Homo sapiens: one gene and its partners. The protein of the gene in region 6 purifies or fractionates together with the protein of the main gene of each other region. This does not show direct contact. Each region holds a gene or a part of one and is shown on either strand. Other genes may lie near its edges.

Evidence for each region.
Region 1: the proteins of RELL1 (region 6) and MGAT1 purify together in Homo sapiens (affinity purification with mass spectrometry; 2 studies listed by BioGRID and IntAct, with this or other methods). This does not show direct contact.
Region 2: the proteins of RELL1 (region 6) and GPR156 purify together in Homo sapiens (co-immunoprecipitation; one large-scale study listed by IntAct). This does not show direct contact.
Region 3: the proteins of RELL1 (region 6) and XPNPEP3 purify together in Homo sapiens (affinity purification with mass spectrometry; one large-scale study listed by BioGRID and IntAct). This does not show direct contact.
Region 4: the proteins of RELL1 (region 6) and OXSR1 purify together in Homo sapiens (affinity purification with mass spectrometry; 2 studies listed by BioGRID and IntAct, with this or other methods). This does not show direct contact.
Region 5: the proteins of RELL1 (region 6) and KDSR purify together in Homo sapiens (affinity purification with mass spectrometry; 2 studies listed by BioGRID and IntAct, with this or other methods). This does not show direct contact.
Region 7: the proteins of RELL1 (region 6) and ZDHHC11 purify together in Homo sapiens (co-immunoprecipitation; one large-scale study listed by IntAct). This does not show direct contact.

Annotation. Positions count from the first base shown.
Region 1 is NC_000005.10:180,800,007-180,804,115, reverse strand, and holds the start of MGAT1 (alpha-1,3-mannosyl-glycoprotein 2-beta-N-acetylglucosaminyltransferase), read left to right. Parts: upstream 1-1,309; 5' UTR 1,310-1,436; exon of another isoform or gene 1,437-1,440; intron 1,441-4,109. UniProt on the Homo sapiens protein: Initiates complex N-linked carbohydrate formation. Essential for the conversion of high-mannose to hybrid and complex N-glycans.
Region 2 is NC_000003.12:120,167,601-120,170,222, reverse strand, and holds part of GPR156 (probable G-protein coupled receptor 156), read left to right. Parts: intron 1-409; exon of another isoform or gene 410-662; intron 663-1,838; coding exon 1,839-2,622. UniProt on the Homo sapiens protein: Orphan G-protein coupled receptor involved in the regulation of hair cell orientation in mechanosensory organs of the inner ear.
Region 3 is NC_000022.11:40,881,148-40,884,647, reverse strand, and holds part of XPNPEP3 (xaa-Pro aminopeptidase 3), read right to left. Parts: intron 2,879-3,500; coding exon 2,471-2,878; intron 1-2,470. UniProt on the Homo sapiens protein: Catalyzes the removal of a penultimate prolyl residue from the N-termini of peptides, such as Leu-Pro-Ala. Also shows low activity towards peptides with Ala or Ser at the P1 position.
Region 4 is NC_000003.12:38,172,037-38,175,536, forward strand, and holds part of OXSR1 (serine/threonine-protein kinase OSR1), read left to right. Parts: intron 1-3,500. UniProt on the Homo sapiens protein: Effector serine/threonine-protein kinase component of the WNK-SPAK/OSR1 kinase cascade, which is involved in various processes, such as ion transport, response to hypertonic stress and blood pressure.
Region 5 is NC_000018.10:63,364,407-63,368,647, reverse strand, and holds the start of KDSR (3-ketodihydrosphingosine reductase), read left to right. Parts: upstream 1-1,441; 5' UTR 1,442-1,529; coding exon 1,530-1,637; intron 1,638-1,647; exon of another isoform or gene 1,648-2,398; intron 2,399-3,518; exon of another isoform or gene 3,519-4,241.
Region 6 is NC_000004.12:37,679,877-37,683,376, reverse strand, and holds part of RELL1 (RELT-like protein 1 precursor), read left to right. Parts: intron 1-3,500. UniProt on the Homo sapiens protein: Induces activation of MAPK14/p38 cascade, when overexpressed. Induces apoptosis, when overexpressed.
Region 7 is NC_000005.10:833,987-837,486, reverse strand, and holds part of ZDHHC11 (palmitoyltransferase ZDHHC11), read left to right. Parts: exon of another isoform or gene 1-6; coding exon 7-122; intron 123-3,500. UniProt on the Homo sapiens protein: Endoplasmic reticulum-localized palmitoyltransferase that could catalyze the addition of palmitate onto various protein substrates and be involved in a variety of cellular processes.

The DNA of each region.
Region 1 (4,109 bases), on a different chromosome or scaffold from region 6:
TGACCCCTTAGCAGTTTTGATTTAGGTCCTCGCCTCCACGCAGGGGCCTGCGGGTGCGCGCGGCCCTTTGTTTCTCTAGAACCCTGCACGATTCGTGGTTTCATGTAGAAACAAGTTAGTGAGCAGTCAGTCAGTAACCACAGGCCGCAGAGTTCCGGGCTGCTCCGTGCTCTGGAACACGGGGGAGGGGTTGATGTCAGGGGCGTGGGTCCTGATCACATGGCAGCAGCCCTTCTTGGGGAAGTCAGCTACCCAGCAGCCTGTAGTCCTCGGCTACCCACCCTCACCGCCTGGGGTCCCATGGTGAGACAGCTGGGTGGGCATCAGGCTTCTGCAGAGGGCCAGGCCGGAGGGAGCTGGGCGAGGGAGTGGGGCTGGCTCCTGGCTTGCACCGGCCTCGTGGAATCCAGGCCTCAGACCTGATCGCTGGCGAAACTGGCTCTGTGCGCTGGAGCCCCTGGTCTTCTGCGTCTGTCCTCCTCCCGGCCAGACTTTACTCCTGGCTCAGCGACAGGTATTTGCTATGGAAGAGCTGTCCCTCCCTCCCCTCGGTGGGCCTGGGTCCACCTCCACCTCCTCTTCAGGTCCGCACCTTCCTCCCCTTTAAAACACCAGCCGGGCGCAGACCCGTTCTAGGCTTTTCCATGGTGCTTCCGCCAAAGCTTGTGACCGAGTCCTTCCCGCCTAGGGCTGGTGGGCCTCCCCTGCTGGTAGGTCTCTCTTCGCTTTCTTTACTCAGAACTGAAGCTCTCATTCCCCACCCACCAAGGAAAAACAAAAGGGAAGAAGCCACAGCTGGCCCCGGCTTGCTTTGGCACAGGTGTTTCCCCCCGGCCCCCCGTCGGGCACCCTGGTTCCTGTTCTGTCCCTGCCCCACGCGACCCTGGGGCTCCCACCCGGGCTCCTCAGCCTCCCCTGGGTTGGGGTGGGGGGACTGGCTCCCAGCCCTTGGCCTAGGGTTTGGTGAACGCCTTTCCTGGACTGCGGGCCCACTTCAGGCGCGGCTCCAGGCTGGGCAGCTGCGCTGGAGGGCCGAGGGCAGGGGTGGGGTCGGGCGTCCACCCTCAGGGTTGCGCCAGGGAGCCGGAAAGCCGACTCCCGAAGTTGGGGTCCTGGGAAAACTTGGGTCCTGGGTTGACTGAGAAGCGGCGGGGAAAGGAGGCGGGCCAGGAGGAGGGGGCCTGGCGGACGCCGGCCGGGGGGCGGGGCGCGGCGGGGCTGTCGGTCACGCCCCTCAGTCCGCCCCGCCCCGCCCCGCCTGCCGGGGAAGGGCCACGTTGCCCGCCCGGCCGTCCGGCCCCGGCGCGCCGCAGAAAGGGCTGGCGAGTCGAAAGGCGAGGCGGCCGCGGCAGCGCTTGGGACGCGCCTGGGCACCGGGCTCGCTCCCTGCGCCCCGGAGCAGGCCAAGTTCGGGGCCAGGACGTCGGGAGGACCTGGTGAGTAGGTGTCCGGGGACGGAGGTCAGACCGGGGGAGGCCTCGCGGGCGCCGAGAGGGAGCCCAAGGGACGTCGGGTCGCCCCAAAGCCCCGGTGCCCATGAGTGCTAGCGAGAGGGGGCTTGGCTGGGGAGCGGCCCGGTCCGACCCGGTGCCAGCTGCGCGTTAGTCCCTTCCCGAGCCGAGAGGTTGGAACTCCGCCTTCTGCTTTCGGAATCCCGGGCCTCCAGCTGTTAGAGGAAGGGCGGGCTCCGCGGACTGGGGAGGATGTTGTGAAACTCGGCCCCGGGCGTCCGTGCGTGCGGGGCAGGGAGGGGGTGGGATTGGGGAGTGGCCTTTCCCCCCTAACCTCACTCCAGCATCCTTTCCCCAAGTTAATAGAGGCTGATTCTCCTCAGCAGAAAGGAAATGTTGATTCAGTGTTGAAATATATATATAATAAGTTGGCAAGAAAACTTTTCTTCCTGTTTGCTAACGTGTGTGGAGTAGAGAGCCCCGGGACGTGCAGTGCCCGCGTCTGATAAACTCTGAAGTAGAGGGACTGTGGCTGGCCGGCTCCCTGAAGGCTGAAGCTTCACTTTGGTTAACCCTTGCTGCTGTAGTGGGTCTGCCGTTTTGTTTTAGAACATCACTGGCTGAGATGTTGCCCAGCTTTATTTTCAGTCATTTACGGTATTTTTTCAGGCCGTGTAGCCTTTGCTCTTACGTGCTCACATCATCCAGGATCTGCCTTCCATCAGCAATCACTGCGTCCTGGTCCTTCCCAATTCTGGGGACCATTGAGCTCACCCATTTCCCTGCTTCTGTGTCTCATTCTCACTGTTAGAAGCACTGCGGTATGCCTGACCTCAGTGGCCTGTGTTAACAAGGGAAACTCATTACTGTTCGGGGCAGTAGGGAAATTGTCACTGTCGTCAGTATCCAGGCAGTGGGACCTTGTGATGAACCAAATCAACCCTGTCACCTTATAGATGAGAGAACTAAGGTACAAGTGGGTCAAGTGACTTGTCCAAAGTTGCCTGGCTTGCTGGCTGGATCGCCTGAATCCCAGGCCTCATGCCTTTTGTGGCACTTGTATTTAGCTCTTCTTTTCCAGGATGAATAACCTGCATCCCTTCCCTCCTAGGTCTTATTCTCTCAACTCTTGAATTATTTAGTGTATCTTCTCTGACTACCTTTCTTTTTTTTCCGTCCTGAAATTATGGGCCTGGTACATGATACAGGAGTCCAGCCAAGGTCTAAGAACGAACATGAAAGCAGTTCAGTTAGAGTTCCATTACCTGTGACATGTCTATATTTTCTGGAATTTTTACGTAGTGCTTTTTAACTTTAAGCAAAGCAGAGATAGAAGGGAAAATCTGTTACCATTTCTTCCACTTCTGTACTTAATTTTACAGCTAAATATAACTTCTCGCTTATTGCTCATGATTGGAAGTTGACTATCTGGTGTTCACTTGCTATTTAAGAAACATTTTTTGCCAGATAAAGGAAATAGGCTGGAGAACACCATGGTATCAGAGTGTTAGAAAGGATCTCACAGCTCCTAGGCAGTCCTTCAAATGCTTCAGAAACTGAGTGAGCCCCATAGGGGCAGGTGGCGCCTACCCAGAGCCACCTCGGTTTTAGCTGAAGGGTTTTGTACTGAAAAGACTCACTTCTCATCTCCCACCATGGTGCAGATGTCTTTGTACCTGGTGGTGTGGATTGGCTGTGTCACCTCCCTAAAGGAGTTGTGAAAACTCTAGAAAGTCAAAGCCAGTTTTGAGTCTGTGCCTTGCATGCCAGTCTCATAAATGACATCATTAGGAACTCAGGTCAGGATTAAGGGCAGTTGTTCTATTTAAAAAGGAAGGTGTAGCAGATTGTATTTTCCCTCAAGGGCCTCACCCGTAAGTATCCCCTTCCACATGTAGTTATAGTTTGACATTGTCCACTTCCCACCTAGTGGTGGGGTTTATGATTCTCTCCCCTTGCATGTCAATAGGGACTTGTGGTTCCCTTGACCAGTGAGTAAGACAGACCTGATCCAAGGCTGAATCAGGAACAGGATACACTTTCACCTGGCTTGCCCGCTTTCTTGGAACACTCACCTTTGGAATGCAGCCACCACTTCCAGGACATTTCCAGGCCACATAGAGGGGTTCTAGTGAGCACTCCTGCTGATAAGGTCTCAGCTGCTGCCAACATCATCCTACAGACATGTGAGAGAATGTGAGAGCCTCTAGGGGCATCTGGCCCTCAGCTTTTGAGTCTTTCAGCAAGGCCTCAGGCATAGTGGAGCAGAGACACGTCATCTCCTCTGTGCTGCACTGTCCACATTTCTGACCAATAGAAACTGTGAGGAGTAAGTGATAACTATTGTTTTAAGCCACTAAATATCGAGGTAATTTATTATGCAGGAGTAGATACCTACTAAGGAAGGAGACATGAGTGGAGACAGGGCCTCAGTGTTTGGACTTGGAGCTGAGCACAGAGGGCAGGGAGGGCACTTGCCCTGCTTGTCAAGATTATCTAGAGTCTGTTTCTCTCATTGCTTCAGGTACTGATGGCTGCATAATGAGTCACCCCAGAACTTAGTGGCTTACAACAACAGAATCATTTTATTAACATCTCAGCTATGTGGTTCTTGCTTGTGGTCTTTCACGCCATTGCAGTCAGCTGGGGCTGGGATAA
Region 2 (2,622 bases), on a different chromosome or scaffold from region 6:
TTCTACAAGGGGAGCAGTGCATCTGCTTGGAGAGTTGCTAGTCAGAATATTGGACTATTTTGCTTAAGCTACTGCTCCCTTAAAGGATCATTTCTAGGCAACTCTCCCATGTAAACCTGAGATGAAACCACAGGTTCACTCTATAACTAGTAGTCCTAGTTAGCTGTTATGGACGGTATAACTAGGCAATTTGTATTGGTTATCCTAACACAGGGAACATCCTTTTGTTTCTAGGGCATAATAAATGGAGGTCCAAATGCTCATGCCCAGCTCCTAAAGATGATAGTAACAAAGAGGTAGCATTTTGGTGTTCAGACAAGCACTTTCTAGAACATTTGCTTACATTATTGCCTTCCCAGAACCCTCGACCCCATGTCATCTGCCCCAAGTCCAGACGTTCCCTGTGAATATCTCCTCCCTGCTCTGCCTTTGAGGATCAGAAGTTTCCAGAGATGGACACACAGTCTGAACTAGAGAATCAGCTGCTGCACCACAGAAAGATGTCTGGGCTGCAGTCGTTCCCTGCAACCCACTGCCAACACTCCTACTCCTACTTCATGCCCCACAATCTCGCAGTTAGGACAGGCACACCTCTGCAGCTCTCACCTGCCAGCCCTCTCCGGCACAACTTGTTTACCAGCTAACATCCAGCGAGTAGGCAGGTCAGTAGCAGAACTGCCCCAGGCTCCTTCGTCTCCTGGGCTCCATTCTAGGGCTGCTGAATCAAGCTAGCAGGGGCTTAAGCCCAACAGTCCTTTCATTTCTTTGTGCTTCTTCAATAGTTCTGATGCTTGCACTCCTTTAGGTGAGTGGTTCCCAACATTTTTGGCACCAGGGACCACTTCCGTGGAAGACAGTTTTTCCACAGATAGTGGTGGGGGGATGGTTTCGGGATGAAACTGTTCCACCTCAGATCATCAGACATTAGCTTCTCATAAGGAGTGTGCAGCCTAGACCCCTCACATGTGCAGTTCACAATAGGGTTTGCGCTTCTGTGAGAATCTAATGTCTCAGCTGATCTGATGGAAGCTCAGGTGGTAATGCTTCCTCACCCACCGCTCACCTCCTGCTGTGCGGCCTGGTTCCTAACAGTCCATGGACTAGTACTGGTCCGTGGCCCAGGAGTTGGGGACCCCTGCTTTAGGTGAAATCAACAGCTGATATTGCCACATGGTAGCTTTGGCCACTCACTCCCAGAGGTCCAGCCTAGGGAGGTGATAACACCAACCTGAGATTCTCTTTGGCCCCTCTCAGCTCCAATCTTATTTGATTGTCACAGAAATCTCCACCCTTCTCCTTGTTCTTCCCATTTTCTAGGCTGTTTAGTAAGAGGCAAAATACTTGTTCTCCTACTTCTTCATCCCCTGGAGATATGCTTCACATTTATCTAAATTTTTGCAAAAGTGTGATAAACTCCAAGTGGGACCATTCCAAACATTATTCAGCTCATACCTGCGGAGTGGCCTGACCCTCTCAGTTCTGGGAAAGGTGAGAGGGCGCTGCAGTGGCCAGCAGGCACTCAGACTGGGCCTCCTTGCTCTTCATAAGCAATGCCGCACAGTGTGGGGATGTAAGGAGAAGACCAAGATAATGACAATAAATCATGGTTGGCCTTTATTGAGCACCGTTTATGTCAGTTATTGTGCTAGCACTTTACATGCATCAACTCATTTCACTGGAGGGAGGCACCTCCTTAGAACCTGAGGTCACCAGCCAATACACTGGAAGAACTGAGATTTCAGCCAAGGTTCTTTGAAAGCCACACCTTCTCCACCATGGTGGGCACTATGGAACCCTCGGCGGCATCTTTTGTTGATGGTTTTGCTTTTATTTTACAGAAAAATGCTGTGATTGAAAGCCTGCAGGAACAAGTAAACAACGCCAAAGAGAAGATTGTGAGGCTGATGTCAGCTGAGTGCACCTATGACCTCCCAGAGGGGGCTGCCCCACCTGCCTCTTCCCCGAACAAGGACGTCCAGGCGGTAGCCTCGGTCCACACCCTGGCAGCTGCTCAGGGGCCTTCGGGTCACCTCTCTGACTTTCAGAATGATCCTGGCATGGCTGCCCGGGATTCCCAGTGCACTTCAGGGCCCTCCTCATATGCACAAAGCCTTGAGGGGCCTGGGAAGGACTCCAGCTTCTCCCCAGGGAAGGAGGAGAAGATATCTGACTCAAAAGACTTTTCTGATCATTTAGACTCAGGTTGTAGCCAGAAGCCATGGACTGAGCAAAGCCTGGGTCCAGAAAGAGGAGACCAAGTCCCCATGAACCCCAGCCAGAGTCTCCTACCAGAAAGAGGCGGCTCAGATCCCCAGAGACAGAGGCATCTGGAGAACTCAGAGGAGCCCCCAGAGCGGCGGTCACGGGTTAGTTCAGTAATCAGGGAGAAACTTCAGGAGGTCTTACAAGATCTGGGCCTGGGCCCTGAGGCTTCCCTCTCCACCGCCCCCTCTTGTCATCAGCAAACCTGGAAGAACAGTGCTGCCTTCAGCCCCCAAAAGATGCCCCTCTCCAAGGAGCTCGGCTTTAGCCCTTACATGGTGAGGAGAAGGCGGGCAGCTCAGCGGGCCCGCTCACACTTTCCTGGCTCTGCACCCTCATCTGTGGGGCATCGGGCAAACA
Region 3 (3,500 bases), on a different chromosome or scaffold from region 6:
ATAAATATGATTTTAGCCAGGCACGGTGGCTCACGCCTGTAATCCCAGCACCCTGGGAGGCTGAGGGGGGTGGATCACCTGAGGTCAGGAGTTCGAGACCAGCCTGACTAACATGGTAAAACCTTGTCTCTACTAAAAAAAAACAGAAAAATTCCCCGGGCATGGTGGCGCGTGCCTGTAACCCCAGCTACACGGGAGGCTGAGGCAGGAGAATTACTTGAACCTGGGAGGCAGGAGTTGCAGTGAGCCGAGATGGTGCCATTGCACTCCAGCCTGGGCAAGAGCGAAATTCTGTTTCAAAAAAAAAAAAAAAGGAATGGTGACCGAGAAGTACTTTTGAGAAATTTATTTTACATGAGATTGTAACTATACTGAATTAATAAAACTTAGACAGTAGAACATGACAAGTAGCAACTAATGTAAGAAAAAAGCTAGAAAGAAAATGATTCTATGCCCCACATTTATGTGGATTTTGAAGACATAAGAAAGTTCAATGAATTGAACAGGCTAATTATCTATAAAATGGAAAACATTTCTATAAATAAAAAGAATTTAATCAAATGTATTAGAACTTACATATTCAAATGAGTATTTTCTTCCAAAAGAGGCTTTACAGGAAACAGTCTAATATATTTTATGATTGTGAAAAACATTTTTGGAATTCTCTTTTAGAAGCTAACTTCAGATATGATTTGTAACCCATGTAAGAAAAATCAAACAAAAACTTTATAATTATACATTATCTTGACCTAAAATCAGTATTTTTAAACTTGAGCATCTATCTTATTTTCCAAATAAGATACTTCAAAAAATAAAATACTTCCCAGAGCTAAAGTTTTTTAAGAATTACTAAAGATAGTTTATAATGTGGTGTAGGTTCTGAAAAAATTCCCAGAAGAAAAATCTCAAAACATTCGGATTGATTAAAATTTCACCAGAATAACTGTAGAGAAAGTAATTTCTTTGAGGGACAAGAACTCAACTATGGCCAGGCACGGTGCCTCACACCTGTAATCCCAGCACTTCAGGAGGCTGAGGTGGGAGGCTCACTTGAGGCCAGGAGTTCAAAACCAGCCTAGGCAACAAAGTGAAACTCCATCTCTACAAAAAAATAAAAAAAAATTAGCCAGACATAGTGGTGTGCCCAGGTAGTCCCAGTATTCTGGAGGCTGAGGCAGGAAGACTGCTTGAGCTTTGGGGTTCGAGGTTGCAGTGAGCCATGAGTGTGCCACTATACCTACATCCCAACCTGGGTGACAGAGTGAGACCCTGCCTAAAAAAAAACAAAAAAAGAACTCAACTGTATATGAACCACAAAAGATCTGTTAAAATGCAGATTCTGATTCAGTAGATAGGGGATGGAGGCCTGAGATTTTAATTTCTATTACATATTATGCATTTTTAATTTTAATATGCATTACCAGGTGATTCTGATGCTGTGATGCATGGATCGTTCTTGGAGAACAGTACCTCCTTTTGAAGAGCTGGCAAGAGCACTAAGATAAGAAGTAGTTGTCAAATATCAAGAAGCTGGTCAGTAATCTTGAAGAGTGGTCCATGCCCATCCTGTCCTTAATTTATTTATTTTTTGGAGATGGGGTCTCACTACGTTGTGCAGTCTGGACCTGAACTCCTGGCCTCAAGCGATCCTTCTACCTCAGCCTCTCCAGTAGCTGGACTACAGACGTACACCACTGTGTCTGGCTTATCCTTTGCTTTAAAAGAAAATTCTCTGTGAGATTTCAAACTAGGATAGGTAACAGTCTCCATTAATGAATAATCCAGTGAACATGGAGTTTTTTTTTAATTGAAATGTTCTAAAATTCATTGTGGTGATGGTTGCACAATTCTATGACTATACCAAAAACTCTTAAATTATATACTTTCATTTTATTATTTTTTTTGAGATGGAGTCTTGCTCTGTCGCCTAGGCTGGAGTGCAGTGGCGGGATCTTAGCTCACTGGCTCACTGTAACCTCCTGCAAATGAATAAATGAATCTTTTTTTTTTTTTAAGACAGTCTTGCTTTGTTGCCTAGGCTGGAATGCAGTGGCATGATCTCGGATCACTGCAACCTCCACCTCCCGGGCTCAAGTGATTCTCCTGCCTGAGCCACCTGAGTAGCTGGGATTACAGGCGCCTGCGACCATGCCTGGCTAATTTTTCTATTTTTAGTAGAGACGGGGTTTCGCCATGTTGGCCAGGTTGGTCTTGAACTCCTGGCCACAAGGAACCTGTCTGCCTCGGCCTCCCAAAGTGCTGGGATTACGGGCGTGAGCCAATGCACCAGGCATAAATGAAATCTTTAAAGAAGCTCAATCTTCTGAAAAAGACTTTACATTTCTTTCATGGTGCTCATGGTCTTTTCATGGTGGTGCTACGATAACAAAATTAAGGACTTGTCTAAACAGGCAAGAAAGGTTTTAATCCCAATCTGGTTTGTAATGTGACTTCTGCTCCCATTTGTTACCTTTCATTTTTGGTAGAAGATGTTGAAATTCTTCTAGCGTATAGGCTTCGTCTACTCCAGTTAGAGCTATTGCTCCATCAGTGCCAGATCGCGGACCATCCCAAAGTTCTCGACTGGGATCTCGCCGAGGCACAAAAAGTATGGCTTTGTGTGATGGTAATTGTTTGCCAGGGAGGCTCTGAAGGACAAGAATGCTATCAGGCTCTTGGAATCCACATAGGTACAGGAAATTGTTGTCTTGGTGGAAAGTATAGGGAATATCGTTGCTCATGTAGTATGTAGGGTTGGAGAGCACAACCACTGTCTGGTCTGTCCCACTCTGCCCTTGAGCTTCCTTCTGGATCAGAGACATTAGTTTGTGTCTGCGAAGTGCATATTCCACCTGAGATAGTCCTGGAGTTACCTCCCCTAGAAATGACAAATAAAAGGGATGCTTTACATTTCTGCAGTGCCAAAGTACTTAAGGTAGTTTAATATTAGATGGAAATACTCAAGTCCAATTGTTCAATTTATGCCAAATCTCCTCACAGCACATGGAGAATTAAGGAGATAACCAGGTTTCAAACTTGTATTCCACTGCAAAAATTTGGAAGAAATGATAGTTGAATGTGGCCCCGCCTGAAATCTGGAATCATGGACCCCTTAGATCTCTTCCAGGTCTTTGGCTCATTCTTTTACTCACTCAGTTATATTCATTGAATATAATTTTTTTTTTTTTTTTGAGACAGAGTTTCGCTCTTGTTGCCCAGGCTGGAGTGCAGTGGCATGATCTCGGCTCACTGAAACCTCTGCCTCTCAGGCTCAAGCAATTCTCCCACTTCAGCCTCCCGACTAGCTGAGGTGGTTCACGCCTGAAATCCCAGCACTTTGGGAGGCCAAGGCAGGCAGATCACCTGAGGTCAGGAGTTCAAGACCAGCCCGGCCAACATGGTAAAACCTCATCTCTACTAAAAAAAACACAAAAATTAGCCATGTGTGGTGGTGCATGCCTGTAATCCCAGCTACTCGGGAGCCTGAGGCAGGAGAATCG
Region 4 (3,500 bases), on a different chromosome or scaffold from region 6:
GTAATTATTTGTGGGAAGTGTTTAGCTTGTATAAAATGATAGTTGTTATTATCTCTGACTTTTTTTTACCCTTCCCCTTGTCCTCATATTTCCCAATTTTTGGTATTGCCATGAAATATGAAATACTATGTGATGTGAAAGCTTGTGACACTTAAAATAGTTTGAATCTGTTTTTAATGCTTAGTGGAACATTATTGCATTTATTTTATTTTCGCATCTTTTTTTTTCTTAGTCCAGGCCTCATTCAGGTTTAGATGGATTTAGGGATTTATGTTGGACATCGTAGTATAACTGTAAGGACCATCACCATGATATTGCTAATAATACAATATGATGGCAGAGAGGGCTGTGCCAGTTAGGTTTTATTGCCCTGCATCTTGAAAAGTCTCAATAAGTATTTACTATTTACCTCAGACTAGAAAATTGAAAACTTAATACTAGGTTTAAGGTGTGATTCACCTAGCTTTGACACTTTGAAGGCAGTGCAATATATTTCTATTCTTGACTTTCCCTTCTTTTTATTTTCATTGATTGTTTACTAGCCACACATTTTGAGTTTAAAGTTGTGGTTTTCAAATACAGATTCCAGGGCCTTACCTTTAGCGCCTCCATAAATGTGAAGGACTTCGTGCTTTCAATAGAGTGGTGCTTAATAGTGTATTTTTCCATTGATTGGGAGACTCAGCTAAGGTGACATTTTCTATGAGGCCAGCATTGGGCCAACAACCTCATAGTGTTGTATCAAATAAGGCTTACATTTCTCTGCATGTGGGGAAAATGGAAATAATAGTGGCTTAATAAAATCCTTTTTCCCCCTTATATAACAAGAAGACTGGAGGTGGCAGCCTAGGTGCTGTCAGGCACCCAGGCTCCTAGTTTTTTCATGCGACCACACTTAGCAGGTGACTCTCCTTCTCATAGTTGGAAGATGGTTGTTCCACCTCTAGACTCATGCTTGTGTTCTTGTCCAGAAGAATATGGCAAAAGGACAAAGACACATGACAGCTGAGTTGGTTCTCTTTTAAAAGGCTTTCTTTCCTAGATGCCTTACTCAGTGACTTCCACTTCTATTTTACTGGCCAGAACTGTATAATTTGGTCATTTGCAAGGCAGACTGCAAAATGAAGCTTTAGCTGGACACATTATTACTTCAAACAAAATAGGTCAGGATTATCTTACTAAAGAAGGGGAAATTGTATGTTTGCTAAGCAACTAAGAATATTGGCCTCATTTTTTTTTAAAATGAAAATAGTCAAATAGGGTATTGCAAGTAAATAATTTAACCTGATGCATAGTAATCAGTTAATAAATGTTAGCTTTAATCTGAAGAGGTAGTTGCCTACTGATTAAGAGCATAATGTTGAAACTCAGGTAGTTCTTATTTCTAGGCCCTACTCTGCCTAACTAACTGTATGACCTAAGTTTTACCTTAATTACATTGCTTTACTTACATTGTCTTGTAAGACCATGAATACCTATCACATGGAATTATTGTAATGATTAGATGAAAAGAAGAAATGTAAGTAAAGAAAGTGCTCAGCATAGACTTGGCACACAGAATGGATGCTCAGTGAATGTTAATGTACATGATGGTAACGATGAAATAACACCCATGAAGACTGGGCTATTTCTGTGTGTGTTCTGCCCCAAACAAGATTTTTTTTCCTTGAAAATATACCCCACTATGTGATTAATTCATTCAGCAAATATTTCTTGAACTCCTGTTATGTGCCAGGCACTGTTCTGGATGCTGGAGATAAAACAATGAAGCAAACACAAAAAATGCCTGCTTTCACAGAGTTTATAATCTAGAAACTCTAAAGAAGAAAAAGCAGGGAAAGGGGTTAGGGACTGCTAGGGGTGGAGGTGGGGTTTCAGTTTTAGGTCAGGGAAAACCTCACTGAGAAGATGACAGTTGAGGAAAGACCTGAAGAAGGTGAAGAAGTGAATGATGTGGTTATCTGCAGGAAGTTTGTTCCAAGCAGAGGACAACAAGAACAAAGGTTCTGAAGCAGAAGCATGCTAATGTGATTAAGGAATGCTAAGGAGGTTTGAGGGCAGCTAGAGCAGAGTAAATCAGAAGGTGAAGAGACAGATAGGTGAAGAGGTTAGAAAGGTAAGGTGGTATGGATGCTTGGTCCTGATTGTCAGGTTGTAAGTTGTTGTAGGAACTTGGCTTTTGCTTTGAGTAAGACTGAAAATCATTGCAGGGTTTTGAACAGAGATTTAACGTGACCTGACTTTCGTTTTAAAACTCAGGCTGCAGGCTGGGCGAGGTGCCTCACCTGTAATCCCAGCACTTTGGGAGGCGGAGGCAGGTGGATCACATGAGGCCAGGAGTTTGAGACCAGCCTGGCCAACACGGTGAAACCCCATCTCTACTAAAAATACAAAAATTAGCTGGGTTTGGTGGTGCATGTCTGTAATCCCAGCTACTCGGGAGGTTGAGGCATGAGAATCGCTTGAACCCGAGTGACAGAGGTTGCAGTGAGCCGAGATGGCGCCACTGCACTCCAGCCTGGGTGACAGAATGAGACACTGTCTCAAAAACAAACAAACAAACACCTCAGGCTGCAATATGAAGAATAGTTTTATAAGGGCACAAGGGTGGAAGGAGGTTATCCAGGGGAGAGAAGTAGTAGTGGAGATGGTGAGAAGTGGTCAGATTCTGGATATAGCATATTTTTTGAAGTTAGGAGGATTTGCTGTTGGATTAGATGTGAGAGAAAGGGAAGATAAGATGATTCCAAGATTTTTGGCTAGAGCATCTGGAAGAATGGAGTTGCCATCCGCTCAGATGGGAGATCACCAGAGTGAACAGGAGAGCGAGTGATGATTCATTGCAAAACCATCAGGCTGCTTGAATACTTACTTGAAGCATATGGCAGTGTCTTTATTTTCATCTTTGTATGGAGAGAATAGCATGATTTTTATGATGATGACTATTCTTACAGATGTTTTGCCAGTTAATTTTCAACATGACTCTGACAAGAGACCTTATTTAGAAAAGGGGTTAACAAAATTGTAAATTCTTATGTTTTGTGTGGTTCAGGTGACAATACTTTAGTCATCTTTCAAAACAGCCTGGGCTAGTGCTTTTCTTCAGTGAATGCAAAACCTTACTAAAATATACTTTAAAATCTTTAGACTATAAGCCTATTATAGTGATGGCTGGGCACAATTTAGGAGAAAATGTGTTCATTTGATTTGATTCATTTAATTCATTTTTTCCTGACAGGAATATCTACTTTTACATTATCTCTCTCTTTTTTAAAAAATTTATTTTTGAGGTGGGGTCTCGCTCTGTTGCCCAGGCTGGAGTGCAGCAGTATGATCATGGCTCACCTCTGCCTCCCAGGTTCAAGCCATCCTCCCACCTTAGCCTCCCAAGTAGCTGGGACTACAGGCGTGTGCCACCACACCCGGCTAATTTTTGTATTTTTTTGTAGAGACGGGGTTTTACTGTGTTGGCCAGGCTGGTCTCAAACTTGTCAGCTCAA
Region 5 (4,241 bases), on a different chromosome or scaffold from region 6:
AAATGTCGTATAGTCATACAATGGGATATTATTTGGCAATAAAAATAAATGAAGTATTAACATGTAGTACTTCATATCATGGATGAACCTTGAAAACATTACAGTAAGTGAAAGATAGGATGAAAAAGGCTACATATTATATGATTCCATTTATGTGAAATATCCCGAATAGGCAAGATTATAGAGACAGAAACATGAGGGATTGCTTAGGCTTGGGCGGGGCTTGGGAGGAAATGGGTCGTGACTGCCAATGAGTATAGGATTTTGGGGGGTTGTGACAAAAATGTTCTAAAATTTATGGTAGTGATGGGTCTACAACTGTGACTATATTAAAGACAATTTATTATAAGCTTTATTTATTTATTTATTTTTGAGACGGAGTCTTGATCTGTCACCCAGGCTGGAGTGCAGTGGCGCGATCTCACCGCAATCTCTGCCTCCCGGGTTCAAGCGATTCTCCTGCCTCAGCCTCCAGGGTAGCTGGGATTACAAGCATACGCCACCATGCCCGGGTGATTTTTTGTATTTTTAGTAGAGACGGGGGTTTCACCATCATGGCCAGGCTGGTCTCGAACTCCAGACCTGAAGAGATCCGCCCGCCTCAGCCTCCCAAAGGTCGGGGATTACAGGCGCGAGCTACCTCGCCCGGCCTATTACGCACGTTAAATCGGGAATTGTATGGTATAGTACGTGAATGAGACCTTAATAAAGCTGAGTTGTTTGCGTTATTTATTTGTTTTGAACCTGCTTGGTAAAGATGAACTCTGAACTCAATGAAATTGAATTACCTTAGTGATTCCTCAAAACTCCCTGTTAAGGCTTTCCGGTCCTCTGAAAAGCGAAAGTGGGCCGTGACCATCTTCTAAAAACGCCAAAAAATATGGAATGGAGCCCGGGATTTCAGAGCGTAGTCGCTGGGCTCCCAGGCTGAGCCCGCTCCGGGAGCCTCCAGCCGCCCTTTCCGATGCTCCGGGGCCTCCGAGCAACCCAGCGGGCAGTCCCAAGCCGAGGGCTGAACTCCAGGGAGGAGCGCTCGTCACGCCCACACTGGAGGCCGTGGCAGGCCTGGAAACCCGCCCTGCGGGGTCCTAAGAAGCCATTCGAGCTCCCGAAGAGCGAGTCTTCGCAGCCCTTCCCGGCGCGCTCGCATCTGGCGCTGTCCGGAGCCCGCTCGCGACGCACAGGGACGGGAGGCCCGGTTTCCACGGGAGAGGCTGCGGACTGCGGGCCCCGTCCCGAGGCCGGGGGAGTGGGAGACACCCGGCGACCCCCGAGAGGCGATTCTGGCAGTGGTGGCGGTGGCGGTGGCGGTGGCGGCCTACTCGCCCCCTGGAAGCACCGCCCCGCCTGGGTGGCGCGCGCGCCGGCTCCTCCTCTTCCCCTCCGCCGCGGCCCGCCCCGGCCCGCAAACCCAAACACTCCAGGCGCCCGCCCGCCGCGCGTGATTCTCGCCTCGCCGCAGCCCAGCCCTGCGCGCCTTGCCCGGCGGCCCCCGCCCGGCCGCTCCGGGCCCCTGGCCCCGCGGAGCGATGCTGCTGCTGGCTGCCGCCTTCCTCGTGGCCTTCGTGCTGCTGCTGTACATGGTGTCTCCGCTCATCAGCCCCAAGCCCCTCGCCCTGCCCGGGGCGCATGTGGTGGTGAGTGGCCTCCTGTTGCTGCCCCCCGACTTACCGGCCCGCGCGGCCTTTCCGCCGCCGAGGCCGCGTAGCCTACGTCCCTTTTTCCAGGCCGCGGTCCCCAGGAAGGCATGGCCAAATGGGGAAGGTCACCTGCCGCCGTCCACCCCGGCGCTTTTCCCCCGGCCCCGGCACCCGGCCTCGCGGACCCGCCCTCCGCAGCCTCGGGCTCCTCCTAGGGCCGGAGAGCGTGCGACGGGGGACCCCGCCGGCCGCAGGGTTCCCGGGGCCCCAGGGGTTCTGTGGCTGCTCGTGAATCCATGCAACATCCCTGGGATGTGGATGTTTTGTCCTCAGTTTTTCCGATGAGTCAACTGAGGCACAGAGAGGCTGAGAAACTTTGCCAAGGACACAGCGGTCGGTGGTGTGCAGGGTGCGGCGCGCGGCCCCGGGCGGGGGCAGACAGCGGGGAAGTGGGGTCCCAGCCGCCGGGACCCGCCGAGGCAGCTCGGAACTGGAAGATGGCCTGTGCGAGTGACGGGAAGAGCCGCTGCCAGAGGATTCCAGGAAGTGACTCACCTGGGGAAACTGCTCAGAACCCAGCGGGCTGGCGGTGGTGGCTTAGCGGTATTGGGACGCCTGTCCCGTCTACACTGCTTGTCTCTGAGCTCAGCGTGGCATCTGCTGATTGCTGCTCCAATGCAATCCTTTGCTGTTTTCTAGTGGGAAGGATGAGCTAAACGACAAGGCTTGTGTGCGAGGAATGAAGGAGAGGTGGATAGGTGTGATTTATTTCTTGGCGGAAGCTCGCATATTCAGCGATCCCTGTTCTGCAAATGTGGCACCTTTCTTAAACAGAGAGAATGCCTCCTTGCCTGCGCCCAGCACTTTCCCGTTTGCAGTGGCTTTCTCACGAGCATTCTCGTTTGGATCTCCCAAACCCGAGGCACAGTGAGGCGAGGAGTTAGGAGTAAGGAGGGTTGGTTACAAAATTGGCCGCACACCTCTTCCTGTCCTATCTCTGCACCGGAGATCCGAGCCTCCCCGCTGAGCTGGTATAAAATAAGATGGTCGTTTTTCTTAGTATGCTTTAAATCTGTACAAGGGTTTGTGAATGAGAAAATGTATCTGTTTAATTTCTCCTTTGTAAAGCTATTAGCTTTTTCCAACACCTCCTGTTCCTAATGGGGAAAGAGTGTGGATTCATTACAAAAAATAAATAAGAGAAAGGCAAAACTTGACACTCTAAATTCTGAAAGTTTTACATCCGCAAGAGAACTGCTGCCTCAAAAGCGTGGCTTTAAACCTTGGATCCTTTCAGAGCTTGAGTTTATAGAGCATAACTTTGCAAAAACTAAAGCTAAACGCAGAATGAAAATTGGAATTCCTTATTTGTAAGACAGTTTCACTGAGCCTTGACTCCAGTCCTTCCAGCCCCATCCCGCGGCAGGTCATAGGTGAGATAATAAATGCTGTGTCTGTTCAGGTGGACCAAGAAGAATTTATTTTTACCATCCCGCTTTAATACGCAGGATTATTATTTCACACTCTAAGTAATGTGAGAATGACATGAATAGTTCACATGGTGTCACCATCTGTCTTCTTTTTTAATGTCATAAGAAGAGTGAAAAGTGTAATTGTTCTTGAGATTTGTTAGGAGTTGACTGTGGTATTGTTGGGAGAGGGAGCTGATGGTTAAACTGTCTGCCCATACATAATTAAGAACAAACTTATAACAATTGTTTCATTTTTAAAACAATTTTATATACTAGTGTTTTCTATCTAGTTACGGTAGTAAAATTGCAGGAAAAAAGCAGAAAATCACCCACCTCAGCCTCCGAAAGTGCTGGGATTACAGGCGCGAGCCATCGCGCCCGGCCAACAACAGCTATATTTTTACAGTAATCTGCTGATAACTGGCTGATTACCGACCAAATAAATCTCTTCAGTGGTGGCAGGTTGAAGCTAAAAAGAAGTAAGGGATGCCTATGAGTCCCATAGAGGTAGGTGCATTTGCGTAGGAGACACTTCCCAATGATGTTAAAATCCTAACATGGAGTCAGAGATCTTCCTCCCAGCATGATTTATGTATAACAGTGAATATTAGGAAAAATCTAAATGTCTGGTTATAGGGAAACGTTGAAGTTTTGATGCAGCTATTTGATGAAGTATTGTGAAACCTTTTCGTTTTTTGACAAATAAGACATTACAATATAATTTTTTAAAAACAGGAGACAATACTATGCAATATTATGTAATTTGCATAGGGACAGTGACTAGAACGATATGGCCGGGTACAGTGGCTCACTCCTATAATCCCAGCACTTTGGGAGGTCAAGGAGAGTGCATAACTTGAGGTCAGGAGTTCGAGACCAGCCTGGCCAACATGGTGAAACCCCATCTCTACTAAAAATACAAAAATTAGTTGGGCGTGCTGGCGCACGCCTGTAATCCCCACTACTTGGGTGTCTGAGACAAGAGAATCGCTTGAACCTGGGAGGCGGAGGTTGCAGTGAGCTGAGATCGTGCCACTGCACTCCAGCCTGGGTGACTGAGCAAGACTGTCTCAAAAAAAAAAAAAGAAAAATAATGTTGCATTGTTCACTTATTCAGTGAAATATATAA
Region 6 (3,500 bases):
CACATAGGTACTGTGCCAGTCAGCATTCAGAGAAGCAGAACCACTAGGAGGTGTCTGTGTATGTGTGTACCTTTATATGTATCTTTATCTGGGATAACCCAGCCTGCTTGATTCCAAAGTTCATTCCCTTTCCACTGTACCCCACTGCTCTGCAGAGGAAAAATAGAATATGAGTCAACCTCTGCAATCTCGCTGAGATTCTAAGATAGTTTAGAACGTCATAAAATTGTAAGCATGTGGTTATCAGAAGTTGTCAAGTAGAGAAAAGAAGGGCAGATAGCTTCACGGTGGGTAGTGGCAATGCCTTTTTCACTTCCTTCCTAGTAGAAGAATCTCATTAAACTTGTCTCTTAGCAGCAGCATTCGAAACTATATACCACAAGCACCCAAAGGGATGATTTTCCACGTCTTGGCTTATTAATGTCCTTAAGTTCTCTGGTTACTCAACCTTCAGGTTTATTAGTTTCTCTCTCAGACAGTGGGCATAGCCCTCGAGTAAGGAGTGGGTGGAAGAGGTCCTGGGGCTGGTGAGATGAAAAATGCATTGTCCTTGGGCTGCAGGCTTCCCTCCAGCATTCTGACTCCTTTTTAGAAACTAAAGATAAGCTTTATTAAATTCTGGGGTCTCTCTTAGCCAGGTAGCTGCGAAGCTGTACATCCACATAATATATAGTGTTTGGAAAGTTTTGAAAAAGCACACCTTGGAGCTTGGGAGTCCATATCTACATTTAATTTTAAAAGGAAATGAAAAATGTGAGAAGTCTCTGTCAATTCCCTGCCCCTACCCCCTCTAAAAATGGAAATGAAATGAATCTATTTGGAAATTTGAAGAGTTGAATTTGAATGTGAGAGACCAAAGCCCCAAGTGAACAAACAACAGATTTTATTGTTTCTTTAAAAATGATTCTTTGGCCCTAATGTTGAAGTTTAATGACTTATTGAAACAATAGAGAAATGATTTAAAGCTGACAAAAAGAATAAATTAAATTGTCATTGGTATAAACTATTAGGTTGAGTGGTTCCTAATAATTTCGGACACTTAAGTGGTTGTAAAGATTTGGTGTGCTGCTGAAAGCGGGTATATTAATAATTCTGGTGTGATTTATAAAAACTAAAATCAGAATTTGGTGTTAGTACACTGTAGACACTTTACTCTTTTAGGAAAAAGGAATTCAATTTTTATTATTACCTGGTTTGTGTGCAGGCGGTAGTCTAAATACCTAGATCATTTCATTCTTACAATTAATTTCCTGTCAGTTATATACATAATTTTATTCCTGTGTTTGTAGATGAGGAAATTGAGCCTCAGAGAAGTTGAAAAAGTCACTCATGTGTAAGCTGGATTTTGTCATGGAGTCCATTGAGTCAGATCTGTTTGATTTTGAAGTCCATGCTTATTATTACTAAACTATTTTTTTGAGTAAGAAAATTCTTTTTATTCTAACATATTTGTAAAGAATCAGTAAGTAACAAGGTCATGGGATGCTATGGTGGAAAGAGCACCAAGCCTTAAGTCAGGGCCTTGGACTTGAAGTCAAAAATCAGAAGGAAGCCGGGTGCAGTGGCTCACGCCTGTAATCGCAGCACTTTGGGAGGCCAAGGCGGGCAGATCACGAGGTCAGGAGTTCAAGACCAGCCTGGCCAATATGGTGAAACCCCGTCTCTACTAGAAATACAAAAATTAGTTGGATGTGGTGGCACATGCCTGTAGTCCCAGCTACTGGGGAGGCTGAGGCAGGAGAATCACTCGAACCTGGGAAGCGGAGGTTGCAGTGAGCTGAGATCGTGCCACTGCACTCCAGCCTGGGTGACAGAGCAAGACTCCGTCTCAAAAAAAAAAAAAAAAAAAAAAAAAAAACAGAAGGAGACCCTGATGCCTGCAGCATATGGTTCTGTCCACCTCCATTTCCTCACCTGTAAAATGGGCATTGTGCCAACACCTGTCTCTCTGTCCTACTGGCTGCTCTGTCTTACTGAGCTCTTGTCTCTGAAAGTTCTGGGTAAATGGCAAAGTGGCATATATCTTTTATCCTGTGTATCTTTAAAAAATATAGTATTTTTTCTCCAGAGTGCGCATTAGGCTTGATTTATATTACGTCATTTAAACTGTCAAATAAATGTGGACCACATATATTAAACAGTTTTTATTCTGGAGGTGGTGATAGCTTTGCAATGATAGGGATTTTTAAAAAGCCCAGAGTGACACCTCAGATTAGAGTTTGCTACTGTTGCATAGGAGTTAAGTAGCCAAGCCATCTTTTCTCATTTCCCTTTAGCTAAAATACAGTGCACTAGGTATTTTTGGAAAATTTCCCCAAAGATCTAAAGTTTGTGGGAGGAAGGAGCGAGAATCACCCTTGATTCCATTACTCCAAGGCACTAGCCATTGTTAGCATATTTCATTCTGGTCTTCTCTAATTGCATTTTTTTTTTTTTTTTTTTTTTGAGATGGAGTGTTGCTCTGTCACCCAGGCTGGAGTGCAGCGGCGCGATCTCAGCTCACTGCAAGCTCCGCCTCCAGGGTTCATGCCATTCTCCCGCCTCAGCCTCCCAAGTAGCTGGGACTACAGGCGCCCACCACCATGCTTGGCTAATTTTGTTTTTATATTTTTAGTAGAGACAGTGTTTCACCGTGTTAGCCAGGATGGTCTCGATCTTCTGACCTCATGATCCGCCCGCCTCGGCCTCCCAAAGTGCTGGGATTACAGGCATGAGCCTGTAATTGCGTTCTTAACTCGCATAGGTTCTTTAATTGCATTTTTAACTCGGATAGGTTCATAATGCAATATAACTTTGTATCATGACTTTTTCAGTTTATGTTACACAGAAATGTTTCTCTATTTCCCTATACACCCAAAAAAGGGCTGCCTACTGTTCCACTATATGGATTCACTGTATTTTACTTCTATGTATCTATTTGGGAGATTTCAGTTGCTCATTATTTTTAAGTGAGTTTTAAAACTCATTTCAATGAATGCCTCTGTGCATGAAACTTTGCCTAAATATCAGAGGACTTCCACAGAAAATGGGTTCCTGAAAAGGCACTTTGAGGGTCAAAGATGTTCACATTTTTGAGGCAATTGATGACATCAGTGTTGATCTGAAGGTCATCCCAGGTTACATTCTCACAGCAATAGCCAAAAAGACTCAATTTCATATTCTTGTTATTTTCTCTGAAAAACATATTCGCTAATTTGTTAGGCAAAAATTGGTACCTTGATTGTTTTAATTTGTACATGGTTGGTAACTATCAGGTTGATTTTGTTTTCTTCTAGTTTTTGAGCCATTTGCAAGTGTGTAATCCTTTATGGATAATTCTGAAATGTAAAAAGCTCTGAAAACAAGTTTTTCTTGTAGGCTTTTGATACCCTCTGTAGGTTGTAAAACTTAACTTGAACTAATGTGAGGTTTTTAATTTTTTTTTTGAGATGGAGTCTCTCTCTGTCTCCCAGGCTGGAGTGCAGTGGTGTGATCTCGGGTCACTGCAAGCTCCGCCTCCC
Region 7 (3,500 bases), on a different chromosome or scaffold from region 6:
TTCCAGAGGCCAAGAAGATGACCACCTTTGAGTATCTCATTAATAACCGCAAAGAAGAGAGTTCAAAACATCAAGCAGTGAGGAAAGATCCATACGTGCAAATGGACAAAGGAGTTCTCCAGGTACCACCTGTCTCTCTGCTCCATTTCTCCAGGCCTGGGACAATGTCTAAGGTCACTCGGTGGTTGGGACCTCTCAGCCATGCTCCTTTACTTCAGGGCCGATGCAGCCCATGGACTCTGCTGTGTGTGTGTCTGTGTGTGAGGCTCTGTGCATGGGTGTGTCTATGTGTCTTTGTGAACATAAACACCAGTCATGCACCACGGACTTCCTAGTGCAAAGATAGGAAAGGAACTGAGTCTCCTGGACATTTCTATACTGCACGATACATCTTCCAAAGTTGAAATGTGCTTTTTGCATCTTTTTTTTTGAGACAGAGTCTCGCTCTGTTGCCCAGGGTGGAGTGAAGTGGTGAAATCTCAGCTCATTGTAGCCTCCACCTCCTGGGTTCAAACAGTTTGCCTACCTCAGCCTCCCAAGTAGCTGGGATCACAGATGTATGCCACTACGCCCGACTAATTTTTGTATTTTTAGTAGAGATGTGGTTTTAACACGCCAGGCTGGTCTCAAACTTCTGGCCTCAGGTGATCCGCCCGCCTTGGCCTCCGAAAGTGCTGGGATTACAAGCATGAGTCACTGTACCTGGCCTGAAACATGATTTTTAACTTAAGGAAGTTAGTTCCCTTTCCGGTTAAGTGACATGAATTATTATAACTAACTCAAGAAGACATAGAAAGTCTAAATAGACATAGAACAGCCAAGAGACTAAACTACTAATTTAAAATCTCCCAGTGAAGAAAAATCCCAGGCCCTGTAGTCTTCATGCATGAATTCCAGCAAAGATTTAAAGAAAAAATACAATACAACCTACACACAGACTCTTTCAGAAAACAGAGAAGGAAGCAACACTTCCCAACTCATTCAGCAATGCCACTATCAACCTGACACCAAACCAGATATTCATAAGCCAGTACATTCAGGAAACACAGGCAGAGATCACTGATAAGACCTTGGGAAACCAAATCGAGCAGCACGGGGCAGGAATGTGCACTGTGGCCAAGTGATATCACTCCAGGGGTAAGCAGTGGCTTAAGGCCTAGGAATCAATTACTACAGCTCAGCACGTTAGTCCAATAGAGAACGGTAACCACGCAATCATGCCAATCAATGCAGAAAAGGGTTTGTTAACAGCAAGTTCCCATTCATGATTTTTAACAAATCTCAGTGACCTAGGAATGATAGGAAAGCACCCTGTGTACCTGACGTGACATTTACTGGTGAAAGGCTTGTGACCCTCTCTTGGAGGCTGGGCACAGGTGATGACGCCCTTTCCTCCTACTTCTGATATCACAGTCACATTCTGGCCAGCCCAGCATAGCAGGGAAAATGAAGGCACAGAGAATACAAAATAAAACTGTGTTTATTTGCAGACAATGAAACCTAAAAAGTATGTTTTAAGACCTAGTTAAGATAATTAAATCACTTAACAAGGATGTGGGGCACATATTAAAATACACGCTCGCACATCTCTATCCACCAGCAATGAAAAATCCGGGTTATATTTTTAAAACTTCCTTTCATAGTCTAATAAAAAAAGAATAAATTTGACAAACCTTATGCAAATATGTACACTGAAAGCTACACACCATGACTGAGAGAAGTCAGAGACGCTCTATTAAGTGAAAAGGTGTACAGCATTCATAGATTGGAAAAAAATACTATTAAAAGGGCAATTTTCCCCAAAACTTATCTACAGATTTACCACAATCCCTGCTGAACCCCAGCAGGCTTCTGTTTTAGCAGAAATGACAAGGTGGTCCTAAAATGTATATGCAAATTCAAAAGACCTAGGCTACTGTACTAGCCAAATGATTTTGAGAAAAAATAAAATTGGAGAACTTACACAACCAGACTTTAAATGTTACTATAAAGCTGTAGCACTAAAGACAGGTGGCGCTGACAGAGAGAGAGACATAAAGCTACAGTAATAAAAACAGTGTGGCACCGACAGAGACAGATATAGAGAAATGGACCAGAAGAAAGGTCCAAAGTTAAAGCTTTCATTTATGGTCAATTGACTTTAAATAATGGTACTAAAATCATTAAATAGGGAGAAATTATAGTTCAACAAGTGGTACTAGAACAATTGGATATCCACATGGAAAAGAAAAAAGAATGATTGAGTTCTTCATACCTGTACAAAGATTACCCAGGATCACTTCATTCGCCACGGAAGAATTAGCCCCAAATCCATCTGACACCTAAACTTAAAAGCTGAACATAGAACACTTCTAGAAACAAGCATAGAATGAAATCTCTGTGATCTTTAGTGAGACAAAGCTTGTCTTTGATCTGACACCAAAATCACTGCCTATTAAAGAAAAAAATCATAGTTTGGACTTTACCAAAATTGAAAATATTTGCTCTTCAAAAGTCACCATTAAGAAAATAAAAATACAGGCACACATGAGAGATACTGCAGGTTTGGTTTTAGAAAGCCACAATAAAGTAAACATGTCAGTAAAACAAGTCACATGAATTTCTGGTTTCCCAGTGCTTATAAAAGTTACGTTTACATGACGTGTGCAACAGCATTATGTCTAAAAACTATGTGTCTGAATTAAAAGTGCTTTATTGCTAAAAGCTGCTTACACAGACAATTGAAGTGAGCACACACTGCGGGGAAAATGGCGCCGACATACTTGCTTGACCAGGGTCACCACAAACCCTCAATTTGTGAAAAAACACAGTATCTGTGAAGTGCAGTAAAGCAATGCACAATAAAGCCAGGTGTTCATTCCTGTGCAAGCCACAGGCAAACAAAATATTTTCAAGTCTTAGACTGATGTCCAGAATACACAAAGACACAAAGAGCTTTCAAAGTGCAATTGTAAAAAAACAACAAACAAAAACATAAACAAACAGAAAACTCAGTTTTTCAAATGGGCAAGAGGGCTGGACACAATGGGAAGCACCTATAATCTCAGTGCTTTGGGAGGCCAAGCAAGAGGATTGCTTGAGGCCAGGAGTTCAAGACCAGCCTGAGCATCTCTACAAAAATAAATAAAAATACATACATACATATAAAAAATGGGCAAAAGATTTGAACAAACTCCTTACCAAGGTAGATGTAGATGTATAGATATATGGATGCCACATAAGCACATGGAAAAAAATGCTCAACATCATTCTACATCAGGCAGCTGCAAATAAAAACCACAATCAGATACTACCACACACCCAGGAGAATGCTTGTCATCAACAAGACAGACACCACCGAGGGTTGGTGAAGTTGTAGAGAAATTGCAAGTCTCCTGCGTTTTTTTGCTAGTGGGAGTTAAATGAGGGTGTAAAGTGCCACCACACTGGAAAGCAGTTTGGCATTTCTTTAAAAGATAAATGTCTAATACATGACCAGAATCCCACTCCCAGTTTCTCAC